3 separate regions of the Homo sapiens genome follow, and regions 1 and 2 are each linked to region 3. Evidence: fine-mapped expression QTL. A gene starts in region 3. Each other region holds a variant in brackets. All regions are shown on one strand. Distances are between the middles of the regions. Region 1 overlaps LINC01722 (long intergenic non-protein coding RNA 1722). Region 2 has its middle 24 kb from the start of LINC01722. Region 3 holds the start of SPTLC3 (serine palmitoyltransferase long chain base subunit 3).

The links. PIP is the estimated chance that this variant, and not a neighbour inherited with it, causes the effect.
Region 1: its variant is the best candidate, but not a certain one, in a credible set for the expression of SPTLC3 in blood mononuclear cells (TOPMed, PIP 0.52).
Region 2: its variant is the best candidate, but not a certain one, in a credible set for the expression of SPTLC3 in whole blood (TOPMed, PIP 0.66).

Annotation. Positions count from the first base shown.
Region 1 is chr20:12,939,156-12,947,347 of GRCh38, reverse strand. LINC01722 (long intergenic non-protein coding RNA 1722) reads left to right here. Exons shown (of 12, transcript NR_109868.1): 3 at 2,156-2,204; 4 at 6,412-6,529. LOC105372535 (a long non-coding RNA gene) reads right to left here. Exons shown (of 5, transcript XR_937274.3): 5 at 6,444-6,833. Among named protein-coding and RNA genes, the nearest start is that of LINC01723, 7.1 kb to the left of the region's middle. The variant G/T (reference allele first, on the strand shown) is at 3,876.
Region 2 is chr20:12,972,340-12,980,531 of GRCh38, reverse strand. No RefSeq gene overlaps it. Among named protein-coding and RNA genes, the nearest start is that of LINC01722, 24 kb to the right of the region's middle. The variant T/C (reference allele first, on the strand shown) is at 3,869.
Region 3 is chr20:13,004,920-13,013,111 of GRCh38, reverse strand. SPTLC3 (serine palmitoyltransferase long chain base subunit 3) reads right to left here and starts at 4,140. Exons shown (of 12, transcript NM_018327.4): 1 at 3,728-4,140. The coding sequence starts at 3,844.

The DNA.
Region 1 (8,192 bases), 66 kb after region 3:
GAATATGAGTAACTGACATTTGTTTAACAATCACAGCTTTAGCCTCACCATCCCATTGCTTTTTTTGTTTAAGATTTATCAAGATAACCAATCATGGAATTATCCCCACTTCCTAATAGCATCCAATACAAAGCAAAACTTTGCTTTATGAATTATCTCTGAAAAACTTTACATAAGCCAAAATCCTATAAGTCTTTTCTAATACTTGCTTATTAATATTGCATTGTTTTCTTTAGGGTCTTTGCCTGTAAGGAATTGACAGAAATGCAGGTTCACCAGGATTCATATGAAACATTTACTGTCTTGGGCTGGAAGCCTTGACTCAGTAAGAGTGTGTACATTTGTGATCTCTTGTGTGTTTACATATTAAGGTATCAAATTGTCCTTGGCTGATTGCTAAGTTAATGTACAACTAAGCTCCAATATTTTATTTAAGCATTTCTGTGTTTTGTTTATTTTCCTAATTATGAGGTCCTCTGGTACTTTTGTTTGTCTGATCAGCTTTGTTTTTTTTCCCCTCAGTGAATTTGTTTTCTGTCCTAACACCAGCTTCTGTGGTCCTTCTGCTTGTTTAGGGTTTTGTGTGTTGCTTTTCTATTAGAAGAAATTTCTTTGGGCACAAATTTGCATAGTTTTGATTTTTAAAAAGTGAACAGAACTTTAGAAATCTGTATGACAACGCTGATAGAAACTATATATGCGTAGTGAGAGAGAAAAGAGGAGAGAAAGAAGAAAAACTATTTTCAAGAAAACAAAAACACAATCCACAGACAGGAAGAAACCATTTGCAAATCGTATATTGGATAATAGACCTGAATCCAGAATATATAAAGAACACTTAAAACTCAACAATAAGAAACCAATTCAAAAGTGTTCAAAAGTATTTTGGTAGATATTTCACCAAGGAAGATATAAGAATGGCTTATGGGCCTATGAATGATCTACATTATCATAATATTATGAGCCATTAGACAATTCAGATTGAAACCTCAGTGATATACTACTGCGTACCACTAAAATGGCTATAGTAAGACAGACAGAAGCAAGCGTTGGTGAAGATGCAGAGAAACTGGAATCCCCACACATTGCTGGTACTAGTATAAAATGGTGCAGCTGCACTGGAAATAAGTTTGGAAGTTTCTTAAAAAGTTAAACCTGCCATGCAACCCAGGAATCTGTTTAAGAAAAATGAAAACATGTTGATACAAAGTCATCTGTGAATGTTTCTAGAATTGATATTCATAATAGGTCTAACTGGAAGCAATTCAAATACCCATCAATGGTGAAATAAATGTGGTATATCCATACCATGGAATACTGTTCCATAATTAAAAGCACACTACTAACATATGTGCTAAAATATGGATGAACCTCAAAAATATGGTGCTAAATGAAATCAGCCAGAGGAAAATAGCCTATGTATTATATAATTGCATTTATATGCAATGTCTAGAAAAGGCAGGTTTACAGAGACAAAGCAGATCAGTGTGTCTAACTAAGGCTGGGGATGGAAGACAGGATTGACTGCAAATGGATGTGAAGGACCTATTTGGGGGGTTATGAAAATGTACCAAAACGGGACTGTGGTGGTGCTTGCACAACTATAAATTTACCCAAACAATTCGAATTGTACACTTGCAGAGGATATATTTTATGGTATGCAAATCATATCTAATTAAGTTGTTTAATATGAAAAGAAAGAAGCAGAAAGTTATTCTCCAGCCTGGGTGACAGAGTGAGACCCTGTCTTAAAGAAAAAGTAATTAAGTCATGTTTCTTTTAGTGGACAGTTAAAAGCATATTTACATAGTAAGCTTCTGTTTCTATAGTTATGAGCTAAGAAGTAATGGCTTTGGGTTCAACATGAGAAGAGTTTTTGATATAACTGGTTTTAAAAAATCAGTTTACAATATACACATAATGCCACGAACTATTTTTGTTTGTTCAGCAAGAGGATAAAATTTCTCATGGTTTCAATTTTATAAATTTCCTATATTAGACTTATAAACAAGCAAGTTTATAAATAAACTTATTAAAAAGTTACCACTGATTGCATAACTTGCTTAAAATACAAAGTTGTATGAATTAACTGTATTCAACTAAATGAAATGACAATAATGGATATATTTTTAATTAATTTTTTTTATTTCCACAGGTTGTTGGGGAACAGGTGGTATTGGATTACATGAGCAAGTTCTTTAATGGTGATTTGTGAGGTTTTAATGCACCCATCTCCTGAGCAGTATACACGGAACCCAATTTGTGGTCTTTTATCTTTCATCCCCTTCCCATCATTTTCTCCCGAGTTCACAAAGTCCATTGCATTATTTTTCTGCCTTTGCATCCTCATAGCTTAGCTCCCACTTATGAGTGAGGATATCTGATGTTTGGTTTTCCATTCCTGAGTTACTTCACTTAGAATAATAGTCTCCAATCTCTTCCAGGTTGCTGAAAATGCTATTAATTCATTCGTTTTTATGGCTGAGTAGTACTTCATCATATACATATATAAATACACCACAGTTTCTTTATCTGCTCATTGATTGATGGGCATTTGGGTTGGTTCCACAATTTTGCAGTTGCGAATTGTGCTGCTATAAACATGTATGTGCAAGTATCTTTTTCATATAATGACTTATTTTCTTCTGGGTAGATACCCAGTGGTGGGATAGCTGGATCGAATGGTAGTTACGATTTTAGTTGCTTAAGAAATCTCCGTACTGTTTTCCATAGTGATTGTACTAGTTTTTATTCCCACCAGCAGTATAGAAGTGTTCCCTTTTCATTGCATCCACGCCAGCATCTACTGTTTTTTGATTGTGGCCATTCTTGCAGGAGTGAAGTGGTGTCACATTGTGGGTTTGATTTGCATTTCCGAGATCATTAGTGATGTTGAGCATTTTTTTCATATGTTTGTTGGCCATTTGAATATCTTCTTTTGAGAATTATCTATCCCTATCCTTAGCCCACTTTTTGATGGGATTGTTTGTTTTTTTCTTGCCAATTTGTTTGAGTTCATTTTAGATTCTGGATATTAGTCCTTTGTCAGATGTATTGATTGTGAATATTTTTCCTACTCTGTCAGTTTTCTGTTCACTCTGCTGACTGTACCTTTGGCTGTGCAAAAGCTCTTTAGTTTAATTAAGTTCCAGCTATTTATTTTTGTTTATATTGCATTTGTTTTTGGTTCTTGGTCATGAAATCCTTGACTAAGCCAATGTCTAGAAGAGTTTTTTTGATATTGTCTGCTAGAATTATTATAGTTTCAGGTCTTAGATTTAAGTTCTTGATCCATCTTGAGTTGATTTTTGTATAAGGCAAGAGCTGATGATCCAGTTTCTTTCTCCTACGTGTGGCTTGCCAATTATCCCAGCATCATTTGTTGAATAGGATGTCCTTTCCCCACTTTATGTCTTTGTTTGCCTTGTTAAAATCAGTTGGCTGTAAGTATTTGGGTTTAATTCTGGGTTCTCTATTCTGTTCCATTGGTCTATGTGCCTAGTTTTATATCAGTACCATGGTATGTTGGTGACTATGGCCTTATAGTATAGTTTGATATCAGGTAATGTGATGCCTCCAGATTTGTTCTTTTTACTTAATCTTGCTTTGGCTATGTGAGCTCTTTATTGTTTCCATATAAAATTTAGGATAGTTTTTTCTAGTTCTGTGAGGAATGATGGTGGTATTTTGATGGGAATTGCACTGAGTTTGTAGATTGCATTGCCAGTATGGTCATTTTCTCAATATTGATTCTGCCCATACATAAGCATGGGATGTTTTTCCATTTGTTTTTGTCGTCTATGATTTCTTTCAGCAGTGTTTTGTAGTTTTTTTCTGTGGATACTTTCACCTTCTTGGTTGGGTATGTTCCTAAA[G/T]GTTTTATTGATTTATTTTTTTTACAGCTATTGTAAAAGAGGTTTAGTTCTTGATTAGATTCTCAGCTTTGTTGCTGATGGTGTATAGCAGAGCTACGGATTTGTGTACATTAATTTTGTATCCTGAAACTTTGCTAAATTCATTCATCAGTTCTAGGAAGTTTGGGGGGAGCCTTTAGGGTTTTCTAGGTATATGATCATATAATCAGCAAACAGTGAGAGTTTGACTTCCTCTTTACCCATTTAGATGTCCTTTATTTCCTTCTCTTGTCTGAGTGCTCTGGCTAGAACTTCCAGTACTACGCTGAATAGAAGTGGTGAGAATGGGCCTCCTTGTCTTGCTCCAGTTCTCAGGGGGAATGCTTTCAACTTTTCCCCATTCAATATTATGTTGATTGAGGGTTTGTTATACATGCCTTTTATTCCATTAAAGTATTCCCCTTCTATGCTGATTTTGCTGAGGGTTTTAATCATAAAGGGATGCTGTATTTTGTCAAATACATCTGTGTCTATTGAGATAATAATGTGATTTTTGTTTTTAATTCTGTTTATGTGGTGTATCTCATTTATTGGCCTGTGTGTGTTGAACCATCCCTGCATCCCTGGTATGAAACCCAGTTAATCATGGTAGATTATCTTTTTGATATGTTGTTGTATGGGTTAGCTAGTATTTTGTTAAGGATTTTTGCATCTATGTTAATCAGGGATATTAGTCTGTAGTGTTTTTTTTTTTTTAATCATGTTCCTTTAGTGTAACGTATTTTTTAAAGAAAATCATGAATAAATGAATGTTGTATCTATTGAGTGACTGGGGTCTGCCAGCACTATGGTCATGCCCCATAACCACAAATGAGGCTTCTGGGGTGGAAGGTTGCCTTAGGAAGCTCTCTTCAGTCATGGTAAACATTTACTTGTTAGTTTGCCGCTATCAGCTGAAATTCTCCTTAGTAAGAATGGCAGTAGAAAAGGATTTTGAAAAACTAGAATATGGAAGTTGCCATGGATCATCCAGTTCTGGGTTCCATGACTTTCTGTAAAGGGTCAGATAGTAAATATACTTGGTTTTGCAGGTCATATGGTTCCTGTGTCAACCACTGGACTTGGAAGTTGTAGCATGAAAGCTTTCGTAGACAGTACACAAATGAGTAGGCACAGCAGTGTTCCAGTAAGTTCATTTTCATAAAATGTACAGGGCCAGATATGTCGTGCCTGCAGTAGTTGCTGAACACTAATCTAACAGGATCCCTCTATATATTTTTTAAGAAAAAAGACAGTAGTATGCCAGCAAGGCCTATGCTCTTGGAGTGGTCTAGAGGAAGAGCTAAACTAAAAAGGCAGAAACAAAATGTGAGAAATTGGAATAAATAAATCACAAAGGGAGTAAACTTTGAGGGAATCAATGAGTATATCATGTTTTGATTGGAGCCTTTATTGAACTCAGCCCTCTGCTGCTGAGTTTCCCCACCAAGAAAAGACATACTCAAAATAATATTTTAAAACACACACACGGCCGGGCGCGGTGTCTCACACCTGTAATCCCAGCACTTTGGTAGGCCGAAGTGGGCGGATCATGAGGTCAGCAGTTTGAGACCAGCCTGGCCAACATAATGAAACCCCATCTCTACTAAAAATACAAAAAAAAAAAAAAAAAAACAAAAAAAAACACAAAACATTAGCCAGGCGTGGTGGATTACAGGCTTCTGCAATCCCCGCTACTTGGGAGGCTGAGGCAACAAGAATCACTTGAACCTGGGAAGTGGAGTTTGCAGTGAGCCAAGATTGCACCACTGCACTCCAGCCTGGGCAACAGTGCGAGACTCTGTCTCCAAACAAACAAAGCACACATACACACACACACAAACTTTTTATCTTGATTTGAACCCAAAGAAAGACAAGTGTGTGAAAAGACTTTTTGGACATGGAAGATCACTACTTAACATGTATCTAATGATATAGCCTCATTGTTTAATTCTATTAAATATTTCTAATTCTAATAAATATTTGTTGCATGAATCTAAATGTAGTGTGCCATAGTATGACTTTGCAAACAGAAAATAAGCTAAACATCACTTTTAGGAATTCCCTGTCAGTTGATGGGGAGAAAACAATGCCTATTCAGTGGAATTCAAGTGGTGGTCTGTGGACCATTGCTGCATGGTGAATATTCAACTACTGTCCTGGGAGAGGATTAAGACAGTTGTTGAGAGTAAGTGTTTCAACACTTTTAGTGCAATTTGACTGTGCCAAAGCAAGTGGACTTGCTTTATTGAAAGAGTTACAGAACAGGTCAAATTCACATGATGAGTCACAAATGGCAGGAACTATGTAATTGTTGAGCACAGTAGGGGCATGTTCTGAAATAATTAGTCAGATTAAGAAGCTTGCGATAGATTATAAATCAATGTAATGTTTGCTTCATTGAGAAATTTTTGTTATATATAGAAAAGCAAAAAATCTTGTTGAACTAAACATTATGCTTAGAGAAATTGTAAAATGTAATCATTCCATAAGGGTAATAACTTTAATTTTTTTATAGGCAATAATGTGAAAGCTGACTAAAAACAACTGTTAATGTATGTGGAAGTACATCTTTATTGAGGGTAAAAGTTTGGTGGAGAACTGTTGAACTATAGAACAATCTCAGTGTTTCCAAGGTAAGCAACCAATTTGATATTGACTTTAAGATGAAATTGGACAACGAATCTTTCTCATTTGTCTAGTATTTTGGATATTTCAATTATCTTAATATTGCTTTGCAAAAAAAAACATGTCTTTTCACAGCAGATAAGGTTGAAGGGCAAAATCCTCAGTTAGAAGCTTGGAAGAATACAATTTCTGCAGACAAGTTCCATGACTTAACAACAATTATTAATGAAGTGGTTGGTGATCTTGATATTGGACATCTGCCAAAATTTATTATCAAATCCTTACAAATTTGTACAACATTTTGATGTTTTTCTGTCAAAAGAAGATCAATGCCTAATATTAATGTATCCCTCATTCCTTTCATTGAAAGATAATTTAGATATCCTCTTACCTAAGTTAGAATGACTATTATTAAAAAGACAAAAAATAACAGATGCTGGTGAGGATGTGGAGAAAAGGGAACTTTTACACACTACCGGTGGGAATATAAATTAGTAAAATCAAAAAATAGAACTACCATATGATTCAAAAATACCACTACTGGGTATTTATATAAAGAAAACAAAATCAATATTTCAAAAAGATATCTGCACTCCCATGTTTATCGTAGCACTACTAACAATAGCAAAGATATGGAATCAACCTAAGTGTTCGTCAATAAACCAATGGATAAAAATGCAGCGTATACACACAATGGAATAATATCCAGCAATAAAAATAAGGAAATCGTGTCATTTGCAGCAGCATGAATGGAACTGGAGTTCATTAACATAAGTGAAAAAAGCCAGGCACAGAAAGACAAATATTACAAGTCATCACATATGTGTGGGAGCTAAAAATGTTAATCTCCTGGAGGTAGAGAAGAGAATAATAGATACAAGAAGATGAAAAGAGTGTGTATGGCAAGGGTGCGGGAGATGGACAGAGGTTAGTTAATGGGTACAAACATACAGTTAGATAAAGGAATAAATTATACTGTTCAATATCATAGTAGAGTGATTATAGTTAACAACAGTGTATTGTCTTTCAAAATAGCAAGAAGATTTCAAATGATAAACACAGAACATGACACATACTCAAGGTAGCAGTTGCCCTAAATACCCTGTCTTGACCATTATATATTGTATGCATGTAACAAAATATCACATGAATCTCATAAATATGTACAAATATTATTTATCCATAAAAATTAAAAGTATCATTTACTTTTAATTATAATTTTACAGGAAATTTATTTATCTGATTATTGCTGAAGGATTGAAGTACATTTTGAAAACATCACTCGTTTCCTTTGGGATAATGGCTAAAAAATTATTATCATTGCGATTGCTGACATTTCTCAAAAATCAATTGCTATTTCAGTCAAAATTTTACTTTAAATTGGTTGTTAAAGGACAAAAAGTAGCAACCACAGTAGCAATTTTCTGAATTAACCTCTTGCGAGTATATATAAAATATATATAATATATAATTATATATAATAATACATAATATATAATTATATATAATATATATATTATATATAAAACATGTTTTCATCCATGGTTGTTGGCATAACTCCCATAGTCTTCTGTTATAATGTTGGAGTGCTTTAAGTCTCAGGAGCAGACCTCAGAAAATATAATCTCTCTCTCTGACCTTCCCCTGCCCTCCTCTAATCTTCCCCTGCCT
Region 2 (8,192 bases), 33 kb after region 3:
CAATTTACAGAGCTATTGTATCCATAAGGCAAGAACAGGATGCTATAAAATGGAATAAAGTGTATGAAAGAATCATTTTAAGTAAAAGAGACAAAAAGTGAAGAAATTCTTAAAATGTAGAACAACAAGAAAACAAGACAGAAAGTTGTAAAGAAATAATAAGAGACATAAAGGATATATCAAGAAGGTACAACAGCGAGCAAGTAGTTATGCCAGAAAGAAAGAACACGGGGAGTTGAGGGTTCTAAATTATCTAAGAAGCAATATAAAAATATTTTTCAGAGCTGAAAGAAAAGTTTTTTTAAATAGAAAAGACTCATATCTAGATCCTGATTATGAAATATGAGAACACTAAGGATGAAGAGGAAAAAAAGTTATTTCAGCAATAGAATTATTATTAAAAGCATAAGATACTGTGAAAATAAAGGAACAGTGTCTTTGGATTGTTGAAGAAAAATAATTTTCCTTCTTCCCTTTATTTTTTCCTCATTTACGTCTATCCATCCATCCATCCATCCATCCATCCATCCATCCATCCACCCATCCATCCATCCATCCACCCATTCATCCATCCATTCATTCATGTATCCGTCCGTCCATCCATCCATCCATTCATGTTTCCATCCATCCATCCATGCATCCATCCATGTATCCATCCATCCATCCATCCATCCATCCATGCATCCATCCATGCATCCATCCATGCATCCATCTATCCATGCTAACTCATCTTTCCTGGTTTTTCTTTCATAGTCTATGCATTCCTGAGCTGTTTCCTTATAGCAGTTGCTGTGTGCATTATAAACAGATCTGTCAAATTTTTCCTCTTAAATCCAAACAATATTATTTGTTCTTCTAGTATGACATTTGTTTGTTGGACTGTTTTTAGATCTGTATTGGAATTTTTGTCCTTGTGGTTTGTTTTTGCCAAAATATATTATTATAATGAACATTATACTGAATCTTGCTTTTTTTTCTTACATAATGTATCATAAACAGTGCACAATGTCAATATGGAATTAATTAACTCTACTCATTCGCTTTCTAATAGTCACTTGTAGGGATTTACCACAATTTATTCATCCACTTGCTCATTAAGAGTCATTCCATTTTTTTCTAATCAAGTTCTAGTCTCTTCATGTAGTAGAGGTTCAGAGAATTAAGTGGCCAAAGTGGGAACCTGGAAAGATCCAAATAATTATAGTGTATTTCAGGAGATTACACTGCATGACCCTCTCCACTCAATCAACTTTCTACACAATATCCCATTTCTACACAATATCCCATTTCTACATAGATCTTATCACTGCGTATTTGCTTATCGCTGGAAAACACCCTCCAGAGGTAGCAGCTTAGCTTTCCCTCTAGAGAGAGGTACATGAGTTACACACAGTGCAAGGATATATTTTCCCTCTTGGACTTCCAACTACTTTTAACTCATGTTTACTTCCCAAGCAAGTGACTAGAATGACAAACTCCACAGATCTCTATCTTGTTTTTAAACATAACATACAATCCTGACTTCCAAACAGGTAACCTTAAGTATATACATAGAGCTTACCTGAGTGAGAGATGATGAATTGTAATTTAATTTTGCTTCCTAAGCTAATTGCATAAAGCTATATGCTACCTTTTTTTAAACCTGAGCTTTATCTACTCAATAGATAGAAAGACACGTTTCAGTGAGCACTATATTACTTTGCAGTGTGAGAAATAAGTGCAAACACATCAGTTTTATTTTCAAAGCCAATTTTATGAACCATGAGCTTAATCAAAAAGACATTCACTAGAGTCTACAATAAATACTTTAAATATAAAAATATGGTATTTGAGAGTAATATTGGCTTTGTCTGCAGCAAGACTAAAATAATGTCCTTTTCTTTAAATTCACCACTGTTTTCAGAATTTTTGGCCACAATTTAAGTATTAATGTTATCACATTAATTGTCTTTTACAGAAATTAGTAAATTGATTTAAAAATCTAAGCACATTTATTTTCACCTATAGTTTTTTTTATTGCTCACTAATAAGCTTTTTTCCAACCACGATTTCAGCCATTGTATTAATTTTGATTGATTCCACAGATAATAGAAATAAGTGTTTTTAGTTGTAAGTTTTATTTTCAGGAAGGGTGAGTGAATGCTACATTTTCAGTGACCTAGAATTTTTTCTAACTAAGACAGAACTATTACAAAATAAGACGCACAGGTATCACATGTTCAGATTGTGAGTTTCAGACAATTGTATAATATGTGTACTACTACCCCAAATAATATGCAAAGCATTTGTATTCCTCCAGGGAGTTCCCTCATGCTCCTTCCAGTCCATTCCCCACCCTTCCCTTCTCATCTCTCCCCAGGCAGCCACTATTTGATTTCTATAATTTCTATAAAAGATTAACTTTCTCTGAATTTAGATTTCAAACACGGTAAGTGAAATCACAGAGCACATACTCTTTATTTACTTAACACATTTTTGATACTCAACCATGTTGTGGTGTATCATAGTTCATTCTTTTTATTGTTAAATATTCTATTATATGAATATTCTATAATTTATTTAATATTTTTTGATGGACATTTGGGTTATTTCCAGTTTTTAGATATTTTGAACACAGTTGCTGGACATATTATTGTACAAGTTTCTCTGTGGACTTAGGTTTTTTTGTGTTTTGGGCAAACACTTAGTGAAATTGCTGGGTCATAAGGTCAAGTTAAACATTGCAGGAAATTGCCAAAATGCTGAGAAGTGACTTTTCAACTTTATACTCCAAGCAGCGGTGTACAAAAGTCATAGTTGTTCTATACCCTTGCCAATGTTTGCTGTTATAATGCATCCCATGATAAATGTTATTTCCTGGTTCTTCTTCCTGTCTTTTATTTTATACTTTTCCAGTTTCTCCTACTTTAATTGATCCTACACTGTACACCAAGGCTCACTGTTCTAAGGCACAGCTCTTGTAAGGTAATAGCTCAAAGTCTTCTTATGGTTTCCTAGTCACAACCTTAGCCTGACAGTGAAACTTCTCTGTGATCTGATCCTTACGTACATCTCTAATTTTATTTCCCAATCTCCCATATGTAAATTCCACACACCCTGCATTCCAGCCAAACTAGCTATAGCTGACTGTTTCCTAACCTGTTCCCCAGTTCTTGCCTCTCTGCTTTTTTCATGCTATTCTTCACCATCAAGTCCTTCCCTACTATGTCTAATCTCTGCAGCCTATTTCTCCAGAGTCTCGGCTCAAATTGTAACTTGCTATGATGCTCACTGCTCCAAACAGAAAAATCAAGCTTCAGAATCCCTATAGAACTGAATTTTTGCCTTTGTGTTAGGCCGTTTCACCTTCAACTTTTATTAGAGTTCATTTTCTCTATGCCTTTAGGTCTCTTCCTAGCTGTAAGCTAGTTGGTGAGGATAACACTCCATTTCTTCCCTGCTCATAGCAGGCCCTCAATAGCTCTTAACTGAAGGAATGAATAAGCCGAGTGAGTTGTAAGTGGGAATGGCGAGTGCTGTTTATTACCAGTGGTGGCCACTTATTTTTAAATGGCTATTATCTGGGTGTGGAAAATGAAATACACACCCTACCCTCCTCCCAGCCTGTCATGTTCATTGCCTGATAAGTATGTGAGCCGAGGATATCTACTGAGGTGAAAGTCTGAGCTTTGTTGTTTCCATTTTTGGTTTGTTTGTTTTTTTCCCTCTGTCTGCCAGCCCCTCTCTTCGCATCACTGTAGGAAAGGAATCAGCTCTGAATCTTAGTTTCCCAGCTTCAGGGGCTAGTGGGTCTGTGGAAATAGTAGCTGTTGAAAGTAAATACTTTTCTGTCTTTTGAGAAAGTCTAAACCAGCGGTTCTCAAACTTT[T/C]TGGCCTCAGGACCCCTTGACACTGTTAGAAGTAACTGAGGATCCCAAGGGGATATATTCACACAGGTTTTTATCTATCAGTGGCTTTGTGTTTGTTTTATGAATCTCTTTAATAGCTTAAAGAAGACAGCTGGATTCTCAGGTCTGCTCTGTGTTCATTCATTCTATCCTGGTATCACATTATGTAGTCTCTGGAAAACTCCACTGTACACTCCTGAAAGAATAAAAAAGGCAAATGGTGCCTAACATTATAATATCAATATTTTTGATCTCTCAGACTCTCTGAGAGGGTCTCAGGGACCTCAAGACTTCTTGGATCACGTTCTGAGAACTGCTGGCTTAATTTGAAGAGATTGTGATGTCCGTGGCTGGAGTGAGTATAATGGGGAAGGGAAGATGCCTTTAAGGAAGAGAGAAGGGTAAACTTTTTCTTTACTGGAAAGGGACCTACATCCTCTGGGTGGCTACATTCTGGGAAGCAGCCAGTGCTTCATGGGGTATGGTCATGAGGTCCATCTGAGAAGGCTAGGTTGGGGTTGGTTATCAACCTTGGTAAAGCCTCCCAGCTCCTAACTAAGGCCTGAAATCTCAGCGGTGTCAGGCTCCAGGAAGCAGGATGGCTTTGGTCCAGGAGCATCTCACTTGTGACCAATGTTGACTAGAAGGGCCTCTTCAAGTGTGCTCAAAATTTAAGTTTTCAGGAAGCCGAGTATGGCCTCCCAGAAAGTTTTGAAACTTTTGAAGGCAATTTTGGTTAATTAGGAAGGGTGTGCTCCTGGCATTGAGCCATTTAGCTCTGTGCACTGAAGATGGTAAACACCTCCAATGCACAGATCAGTGTCCCACAGATTTTCAGTGGCCCCAGGCATTCATGAGGATAAAAAGCTTGCTTATAATCTTTCTGGTTTGGAATCTAATTCTGTATAACAAATGAAAAAAAAGCATTTTTTGGCATAATTTTCATATACCTTAAATTTTTCAGAAATAAATCATTATGTGAATCATGGGAAATTCTACTTGTTTTGTTTGGAATGTTATCCAGATTATTTTACCATTTTAGAAAATAACATTAAGGCAGCAATACTTATGGTAATTGAGCCACCACTACTACACACCTGGACTCATCTGCCTTTGTAGCTGTGGCATTATATGTACAGATACAACCCTCATATCATTGCATTATATCTTCAAATTTAATCATACTTGATTATTTGCAAATTTATATACATTTATTTTTATTAGACATTTGTCTTATGTTTTATTTGTATTATAGTTTAATATATTGATGGTTTTAAAGATTTTGTGTCTAGATAGGTCATGTGATCTATGAATTTTATTTCAACATTGTAGGGAACATTAAAATAAGTTTGGTACAAAAAAAGTGGTGAATCTGAATCTGATAGGGAACCCTAGAAGGAGGAAACTGAGGAGGGAACCCTAGAAGCTTCGTATGACCTTAGGTGAAGGCAGGTTGCAAGTGAGAGAGAGCACCAATAATGACTTCAGTAGATACAACATTGGTTTATTCATGTTTTCCTTCAAAAAATACATTATACTGAAAGAACATAACAAAAAAAGAAAACTACAGACTAATATACCTGTTGAGTACAGATGCAAGAATCCTTAACAAAATAATAGCTAACCGACTCCAACAGCATATCCAAAAAGATAATCCACCATGATCAAGTGGGTTTCATACCCGGGATGCAGAGATGTTCAACATACACAGCCAATAAATGTGATATACCACATAAACAGAATTAAAAACTAAAATCACAAGATCATCTCAATAGACACAGCAAAAGCATTTGAGAAAATCCAGCATTGCTCTATGATTAAAACCCTCAGCAAAATCGGCATAGAAGGGGCATACCTTAATGTAATAAAAGCCATCTATGACAGACTCACAGCCAACATAATACTGAATGGGGAAAAGTTGAAAGCATACCCCCTGAGAACTCGGACAAGACAAGGATGCCCACTCTCACCGCTTCAATTCAACATATTACTGGAAGTCCTAGCAAGAGCAATCAGACAAGAGAAAGAAAGGGCATCCAACCAGTAAAGAGGAAATCAAACTGTCACTGTTTGCTGATGATATGATCATATACCTAGAAAACCCTAAAGGCTCCTTCCAAAAGCCCCTAGAACTGATAAATTAATTCAGCAGGCTTCATGATACAAAATTAATGTACATAAATCAGTAGCTCTTCTATACACTGACAGCGACCAAGCTGAGAATCAAATCAATAACTCAACCCCCTTTACAATAGCTGCAGAAAAAAAATACTTAGGAATATACCTAACCAAGGAGGTGAAAGACCTCTACAAGGAAAACTACAACATACTTTTGAAAGAAATTTTAGATAACACAAACAAATGGAAATATATCCCATGGTCATGGATGAATAGAATCAATATTGTGAAAATGACCATATTGCCAGTAGCAATCTATAAATTCAATGCAATTCCCATCAAAATACCACCATCATTCTTCACAGAACTAGGAAAAAAAAATTCTAAAATTCACATGGCACCAAAAAGGAGCCTGCATAGCCAAAGCAAGACTAAGCAAAAAGAACAAATCTGGAGTCATCACATTACCTGACTTCAAACTATACTGTAAGACCATAGTCACCAAAACAGCATGGTACTGGTATAATAGGCACATAGACCAATGAAACATAATAGATAACCCAGAAATAAAGGCAAATACTTACAACCAACTCATCTTTGACAAAGCAAATATAAACATGAAGTAGGGGAAGGACACCCTAGTCAACGAATGGTACTGAGATACTTGACAAGCCACATGTAGAAGAATGAAACTGGATCCTCATCTCTCATGGGATATAAAGATCAACTCAAGATGGATGAAAGACTTAAATCTAAGACCTTAAACCATAAAAATTCTAGAAGATAACATTGGAAACACCCTTCTGGACATTGGCTTATTCAAAGACTTCATGACCAAGAACCCCAAAGCAAATGCAACAAAAACAAAGATAAATAGTTGGACTTAATTGAACTAAAAAACTTCTGCACAACAAAAGAAACAATCAGCAGAGTAAACAGACAACCCACAGAATGTGAGAAGATCTTCCCAATCTATACATCCCACAAAGGACTAATATCCAGAATCTACAAGGGACTCAAACAAATAAGCAAGAATAAAACAAACAATCCCATCAAAAAGTGGGCTAAGGACATGAATAGATAATTCTCAGAAGAAGATATGCAAGTGCCCAACAAACATATGAAAAATGCTCAATATCACTAATGATCAGGGAAATGCAAATCAAAACCACAATGCGATATCACCTTATTCCTGCAAGAATGGCCATAATAAAAAAATCAAAAAATAATAGATGTTGGAGGGAATGTGGTGAAAAAGGAACACTTTTACACTGCTGATGGGAATGTAAACTAGTACAAACACTATGGAAAACAGTGTAAATATTCCTTAAAGAACTAAAAAGCAGAGTTACCATTTGAACCAGCAATCCCACTACAGGGTATCTACACAAAGGAAAATGAGTCATTATATGAAAAAGATATTTGCTCATGCATGTTTATAGCAGCACAATTCCCAATTGCAAAAATGTAAAACCAGCCCAAATGCCCATCAATCAATGATTGGATAAAGAAATTGTGATATGTCTATATCTGTACCTATCTATATACCATGGAATACTACTCAGACATAAAATTGAACAAAATAATGGCATTCACAGCAACCTGGATGAAACTGGAAACCATTATTTTAAGTGCAGTAACTCAGGAATGGAAAACCAAACATCAGATATTCTCAATCATAAGTGGAAGCTAAGCTATGAGGTTGCAAACACGTAAGAATGATACAACAGACTTTGGGGACTTGGGGGACAAGGTGGGAGGGGGTGAGGGATAAAAGACTACACATTGGATACAGTGTACACTGCTCGGGTAATGGATGCACCAAAATCTCAGAAATCACCACTAAAGAAACTTAGTTATGTAACCAAACACTACTTGTCCCCCAAAAACCTATTGAAGTAAAGAAAAAAAACCACAGTGAGATACCATCTCACACTAGGCAAAATGGCTATTATTAAAAAGTCAAAAAATAACAGATGCTGAGGAGGTTGCAGAGAAAAGGAAATGCTTACACACTGTTGGTGGAAGTGTAAATTGGTCCAACCATTGTGGAAAGCAGTGTGGCAATTCCTCAAAGGGCTAAAACCAGAACCACTATTCGGCCAAGCAATCTCATTATTGGGTATATACCCAGAGGAATATAAATTGTTCCATTATAAAGACACATGCATGCATATTTCACTGCAGC
Region 3 (8,192 bases):
CACTGCTTCTCACTGTCTGCGATGAAGGCTCACTGAATTGAGAAAAGTCTCTCAAAAGTCACATGACCTATTGTGCCTCACAGCTTCCTGGAATGCTTCATGACCTTTCTTATGCCCTTTACTAGCAACTCCTACATTCATCTCTGGAGTTCCTTTCCTGTCTTTTCCTCATTTGCCCCTCAGGAATAAGCTCCCTATTTTTTCTGCAATTATAATGTCTCAAGGTTCAATTTGAGTCTTCTCTGCTCTGAGAAGCTGTCACTGACCACCCCAACTTGTGATTTCCTAGAACATACTGAAAAAGGAACTGGCTTTGGAGCAACTTGGATTTGGGCTCAAATCCTGGCCATGCTGATTGTGATTCTTCAGAAGTTCCTTAGTGATTTATCTTTCCCCATCTGTATAATGGACAGTATACTACCACTTCATGGGGCTGTTTTGAAGGTACAGGAGATGCCTGCCTGAAGTGCTTAGCCCTTCCTGATACATAGCAGAATATTGATATTTATTATTATTTTTGCTCTTCTCCAACTTCTAGTACTAGTATCTATACCACTCATTTGTACTCAAGTTATGTCTGCTTTATGGCAGCTCTTGTCCTTGCACTAGCATTTAACTTTGATGTGATTATTTTAATGTTGATATAAGCTTTCTCCTAACAGATAAATTGTAAACTTCTTATTTATCTTTATAGGTCCTAAGAATAACAGATGCTTAATAAGTATTGGTGAAAAAAAAGCAACCACCTGTTAGGGCTCATAACCTATACCTGGTAATATTACAACATTCAGGTCAAGAACTCAATAAACCTTGAATTAGAGTAACTCTAATCCCCAAACATTTTTGTTTTCCAGGAAAGGGATGATTAGGAAAACTTTACAATTTTTTTTTCATCCTGCAGGTTTCGTTTAAGAGAAGAAAATGCAGACTCTATCCTCTTAAGAAACTACTTCTGGGAAAATGCAATGGAGACACAAGGTCTACCTTCCTAGGTTTTGGTTTTCCAAATAAAAGTTTATGGTCAGGTCAAAAATAATTGCTGGGAATTAAAAAGCAATTATGTGGATAATAGTTGCAAAGTAATTATATAGAATTAAGTAAGGAATAGGAAATTCCTATTCATTAGGAAGAATTTTAATTCAATAAAAATTATAAGAAATATCAAGTTTATAGATTAAGACTTTAAGCACCCATCTGTCTGTAGTGTGGATATGCTCATGAAGAGGGAGAACAAATCCTCTAGTATGATAGTGTCCTGTTACAAGTAAAAGGTAGGAGGCCATGTTGGGAATAAACAAATAAATGGACTTAGTCAGTGATGAAAACCAGTTTTTGTGCATTCTCAGGACATATGAGGTTTAAAGAAAAAAAAAAAACAGGAAAAATAGTCAGGCTCCATAAAAGCTCCAGAAAGGAACTCTAGAAGGTTTCTAAGAATGGAAAGGCTCTGGTCCTTGCCAGCCTTGAGACTGGGGCAGCAAGCCTGCTGCAGGCTGGAGCAGGGATGGCAGCCTACGCTGGACCAGGGGGAAGGAGGACTCATGAGCACCGCCTAATAGTAATTTTCATATGTTTGTTATGCCAGGGAACCCTTTGTCAACAGAATCTTGTAGGGTCCCCTAATGTATAAAAGAGATAACTGTGTTGCTGTGTGGTTGCAAATAAGTGGGAAGAGAAAGGGTGGGAGGATCATTGGAGGGGCTGGTAGGATCTTAGATGCTGCGGCAGAAGACGTTAGGCCAGGCAGAACGTGTTTGGGAGACCAGCAGCCTAGGATTCTGTAAGCCTTTGCAGACTGCTTCTATCCACAGGCAAGGCTTTTGGTCTAGGCCTAGTTTGTTAAAGGGTCCCAAGGATCAAAACTGGTGGCAAAGGAACTTGAGAGTAAAGACAACTTCGTTCCCATCATGGAGGGGACAATAAGCCCTCGTTTGCCCTATTACACTATGATCTCAGCCGGGTTTTTTTTGTTCGTTTGTTTTTCTGAAAAATATTTTTTAAGCCATAATTGAGGCTCTCAATGAAAGCCAATTGTAGCTTAGTGACACCTAAATATGTCTGAGACAAGAGGCTCTGGATGGCCCTTCAGGAAGGCAACAGCAGCCCTGATGTTTTCGACCGTTCTTAGGGAAGCCTCAGTGTCCAAGGATATTTACAGTCTTGCAGCTGCACTTCATAATGAACCTTTAGAATCCTGGGTTTTATCCTTACTTAGGAGTGGTTATAACTGTCTAAGTTTCTAATCTCATACCTCGAATGTGATTATAAAACCAAGATAAAATAAATAAAAGGGAGAAAAGTTAAGAAGGAATCTCTTCCCAGATGAGATCCCTCAGGGTCAGAATAATCACAAGGGTAAGTAGATGAATAGCTTGTGAGTTACAGGCATTCCAGAGGCAAGGATCGTCTTGAGTAGTGGCCTGAATTGATATTTAGTGATGCATAAGTGGTGGATATTACTGCAATTTCCTTCATACAACTGACAGGAGTTGAGCACCTTCTCTTCACATTGCTCCAGGTTTCAGATCCTCAGGTGGGACAGGCCAGTTCTGAGGTTTCTGATAGACACCTCCCAGCGTTGGACAGTGCCTTTTGTTAAGAGGGGAATGCTTTTGGGGACCACAGCCTGTTTACACACAACTCAGGCTCTAGAGCTCCTTTAGCCTCTTCCAATTGCACACACGAATGTAATTCACTGAGAGGAGGACTGGCCCCAGCCAGACCCACCTGTCCTGTGATCTTAGAACAATCTGCCTTTCCTGTGGGTGGATACTTGCTCTCTGGATGATCAAATGATGGAAGATTGCATGGGGCTCCCTGTGCCACTTCTCTTTCCAAACAGGAGGCTACCTGTTTGACTACTTGGGCTTGCTCCTCAGGCAGATGAGCTCACTTCTGCTGCTCAGAGCAGAGTGACACGGGATGTCCTGTGGGGAGTGGGGAACTGCCTTACATAAGGACCTCACAGACCCAGGCTCTCTCTTAAAACAAGCTGACAACTTTCCTCGAGTTCCTCCTGCCTAGGACACTCTGCAAACATCCCGGTGCAATAAGAGTGAAAAAAAAAAAAAGTGTCAAGTTGGAAAATACAAGTTTGTTTTAAAGATGCTGTTCTGTTTTCTGAGAGCAGTGTGTCACAATCAGCCCTGCTTTCTGAAGTGTTTTGGAAAAGAATGTCTGTGACGTCACATTTCAAAGAAATACTGTGGCCTCAAATCAAGTAGTGAGCTAAAACAATGCTCCACTACACACCAATAATAACTCGCCTTTCAAACAGTGATGCATTTCTCATGGACCTGGGAAGAATGCCATCTCCACCACATAATGTCAGCAAAATGTACTTTCACTTCCTCTTTTTCTTCTGAAGCATGACGGTTGTAGCAGGTCTCTTGGACAAAAATATATGCAAAGAGTTGGAACTTTCTTAATTCTTCCCTCCCCGCAAAATGCTTGAGACAAAAGTCTAGTAGGTACATTTGTATTTTAGGGAGCCTGAAGCTGTGTGAGTCTGTGTGTATCCTCTTTTGCATACAGAAGACATTTTCTCCTTAATCCACACCTAAACTTTTTGGTAGCCAAGCACTTTCTATTAACAGAGTCAACAGTCAAAACATGTAAAAACCCTTCATAAGATGAACTCTAAGTTAGGACAGCCTCAAATATCTTCACAGAGAAATATTGAAACGTTCAGGTAATTCAGAGAAGAGTAGGGGAGAGTGCCTCTTACCTGGGCTTCCTTCACTATTCCATTCTTTGTGCAGTTTCTGCTTTGTGAGCCATTGCTCTGTTTCTTGTGATTGTGAAGTTTCCCGTTGCAAACAGCACCACCTCCAGGGTTAGCCATGGGTGTGAAGTGACAGAGCCCGGGACAGGTTTTCCTTCAGAGGTCTCTGCAGGCTTTAGTTTTCAGTCTGCGAGGGGATGGGATAAAGCTCTTTGGGGCTGAGCCCTTAAAGGAATCTTACCAATCAGGCTTTTCCAGAAGAAGAGCAACAGCCTATCTTTTTGTCAGATCGTTGAAACTAAAACAAATGGTTACCTTTATACTTCTCAACTCCCGTCAAAATGTGAACTCCATGGCAACAAACCTGCTTCCGAAACTGTAAAGGAGATTGTCCATGCTGGCTCCTTCTGGGGACTGAGGGAACCTGGGGACTGAACAACCCAGTGGCAAAGTGTGAGGAGGCGGGCTGGGAGGTGGAGAGTCTTTTAAAGACACACACACACAGCACACTCACAGAGTCTTCTAAGTAACTGAGTTCTGAGTTAACCTCTTTTTCCCACCCCCTCTCTCCTGCATGTAATTGTGGTTTTTGGTTGTAAACCAAGCTCAAAAGTTAATATTTCTTTTTGCTATAAAATAGCATTCAGAGGTGGTTGCCAGGGCCTGGAGGGATGAGGCAAAGGGAAGTTATTGTTTAATGGGTACAGAGTTTGAGCTGGAGCAGATGAAAAAGGTATAGTGATGGATCAGTGCACAACAATGTGAATGTACTTAAACTAAACTGTGCACTTAAAAATGATTAAAATGGTAAGTTTCATGTGATGTATACATTTCCATAATTTACAAATGATTTGAAAAGATTTTTAAAAACCCAGTATTCAAAACCAACCTATGTTAAAATCAGTACTATAATAAGGGGGTACCAATCCATCAAGAATTCCAGTAAGACAGATGTTGAGGAGACAGAATATTTGATGACTGCGTTATCTTTATCTCGTGACCTTGGGGGAGGTATTTACCCACTTTATGCCTCAGTTTTTCCATCTATAAAATATCTGCTGAGGTAGAACAAAAATCATGCTGTAGCTTGGGTTTGTTACTGACGCAGGTGTGAGGTGGTTGATGACTGCAGGGTCCCAGTCCTGAAACACATCTGGTTTACTCACTAACTCTTATTCTCTCAATGCATGAATCTTCAAGGCTTTGTTTCTTCCTACCATCATCAAATGGCATGGTGACATGATTTGCTGGAGAGTCATTACAACCTGTTGAGTCTTCCCAAGTCCACCCTTGTGGTTTTCCTGAGTCGAGACTTCTTTAGCATCAGACTCTAAGAAAAGAAACCAATTTATTGGGGCAGTAGACAAAAACAAACAATCAAACACACACACACAAACAAAAAGAAAGAAATGGCCCCTGTTTCCAGAGCCTCATGTCCTGTAACTCAGCTCCCTTGGACAGGGTTCAGTTCTACTCCAGATTAATGTAGCTTTTGGAGGTGGACATGCTAACGCTTCTCCTAACTATGACTTGCATATGAGGGTACCTGCCTTTACCATCCCAAGGAATGCTGGAGGAATAAGATAAGGCCTGAGGCCAAGGTGAAAGACGGAGTTAATACCAAGTGTGTTCAGCCCAGTTTGTGTCTCAAGTTCAAAAATTTTATCGCATTTCTCTCAACCTTTATCATCAAAGTAGAAGTAGATTTTCACTGGTCTCTCCCTTCCATGGCTGTTTCACTGAGATTTGGGGGCTAAACTCTTGTAGGTTTATTTTCTTCTAAGATTTAGGAAATGGAGAGATGAAGAGGTAGAGGGGAGCACTATTGTTGGCCCAACTGCCTCACGTTACTTAGAAAGACAAGTTGAAGAGAGGGCGTTATTTTCCCTGAGCTCTATTGCTCAGTGCAAAGCATTTTTTTAATAAAGATTTTGAAATAAAACTTTTTTAACATTAGATGTCTCTTTTCTTTCTTCTTTTCTTCTTCTCCATCTCTTTCCTCTTTTCACATTTGTCCTTTTCCCTTTCCTCCCCCACCCTCCTCTTCTTTTTCTTCTTCTTTTTCAAATTTTCTTTTTACAAGGGACAAAAGGTATATATAAAATAAATCTTAAAACACAGCTGAATTCTGCTTTCTCCGTTTCCTTCCCCTAATTGCAATTGCTAAGGTTAGGTAATCACACATAGATTTCTGAGAAATATCTACTACGTGCTCTCACTCTTGAAACTTTTCTATTTTACTTACCGTATTGGAATGTGTGCATTGTTGTGTGTACAAAATTATATTAACACACCAACCATTTGGCATCAGGCACTGCTGGTATGTATAGTCAGTGGTGACTCATTGCTTCATACCATCTCCAGTTAAAATAAGCGAAGAGTTCTGTTGAAGTCAGTGGTAGGTTTAGGTTTAAGGTTTGGAGCAATACTAAAACACAGACTAAATATTGAGCAAGATTTGGCATCTCTGAACAACTAAATACATTTTGGATCAACTAGTAACCTCAGAAAATGTTTGAATAAGTACTCTGTATTTGCTGAGTCCTTGGTTCTCACAAGGAATAAAACATACACAGTCTCCACCTTCACAGAACTAAGACTCAGCAGTACCCACATGCCTTCTACTTAGGATATCTTACTATTAAAGGTAGAAATAAATCTTCCCACTAGTACATTAAAGGCAAAGATGATAAAATTAGCAATGGCCTTGTGGTGTTCTCCAAAGTAATGGTTTTGCCCAGATGCCAGATTCTCAGCTCCTCTCTTAATGAAGCAGCCAAAAAGGGAGATAACAGAATGAGGATAGGCAAGAAAGGGAAGGACAGAGGCTTGGCAATGTGTTGTGAAAACGCTCTTGGAACAACTTGGGGATAGAGAGTTGGCAAAAATGGGAGGATATGAGCAGAATGAACTGTCAGAATTGTACAGTGTACAGAAATCTGTTCATTCTCAGTGACTCAAGTTTTACCCATGTAATGGAGAGTGATGCTCATGCAAAACTAAATTTTCAACAGGTTAAGTGACTTTTCCAAAGCCACAGAATAATATGTGGTAGAAGTGGGTCATGAACTCAAGAATGTCTGGGTCTAAGTGAGTGCCGTTTTCCTTACACCATGACACCTCTCCTTCAGCTGTTGACTTGAGAACCATCAACCACCAAGAAAAGAAATAACAGAATCTGTTATTATTTGGGAGATTTCATTGGATTGGCCAAATAATGAATAAAAATGCTTTATTTGCTTTTTGATGTTTAAAAATTTGCAATATATTAAATTTTTTTACAAATGACTAATGACATGTCAATATCTACTAATAAGTCTACGTGGAAGTACTTAAATTTCCCGAAGAGTTCAATCTGGAAAAATTCTCATCGTAGAGACCATTCATTTCCATAGATTTCCCCATGAATAGGTTGTAAACGTGATGACCTAAGAAGGCCAGCCGCATGTGAGTTAATATTAAATTTGAACTGACCAATAAGTCATGAAAATTATCTGAGAAAACCCAGAAAGTGATCATGTCAATTTATCTGATATCAGGTGGAAATTATAACTCTTAATCAAGATCAAGTTAATTTTAGTTTTCACACTTTTGGGTTTTGCACACTGTTGTGATTGGAAAATCCATGCATAGCACATATTTAACATCACATATCTTTGCCCTGAAATAGATCATACTGACACAGTCAGTCCCTCATTCATATCCTTTTGACTTAGCTTGGAGGTCCCTGATACACGGTGTCAGCTGTTTTCTGTGTTTCTATGCCCAAGCAGGTTCTCTGACCATGGGGTATTCTCTGCTTCTGCAGTGTGGGCCAGGTGTGCTGGGAAATTCACATCCTTGAGAGCAACTCTCAGCCAACAAGGGACAGAAGTTGGTGCATAAACACCCCATGTTATTTTCTTCTTTATGGGACAATTCTGAGGCATGTTCACAGCCTCTGGAGAGATCCCAATGGGACTGTGGCTCTGTTGCCCTCAGTAGTAACCCTCTTATAAAAACACCCATTATTAAGTTTTCCTCCCTTCCTGGTTTTACTTATCCATGCTTCCTGAAAATACCCCCCAATAAACTACTTGCACCTAAATCCTTGTCTCAGAGTCTGTTTGTGGGAACCCAAATTAGGGCAACCAAGTCCATATTAGCCCATCAGATCTTATTGATCAGAGATCAAATTGGATCTTTTGAATGATCAATATTAGACTGTTCTGAAGATTGAGAGAGATATCATGTAGAAAAACTTAATACATTCATTTGGGTAAAACCTCATAAATTCTAGAGACAGACAGAAAATGTGTACTCTTGTGTCTCCCATAGGGAAGATTTGTGGAATTTATATAAGAAGAGGGTGTCTACAATTTAGTTGGGGAAGAAAAGTCATTAACTTTGAGTTATAATATCATAAAAACACCACATATTTTGAATGAGAAACAGGCTCTAGAAAGTCTTTTAGAATGTGCTTTATCTG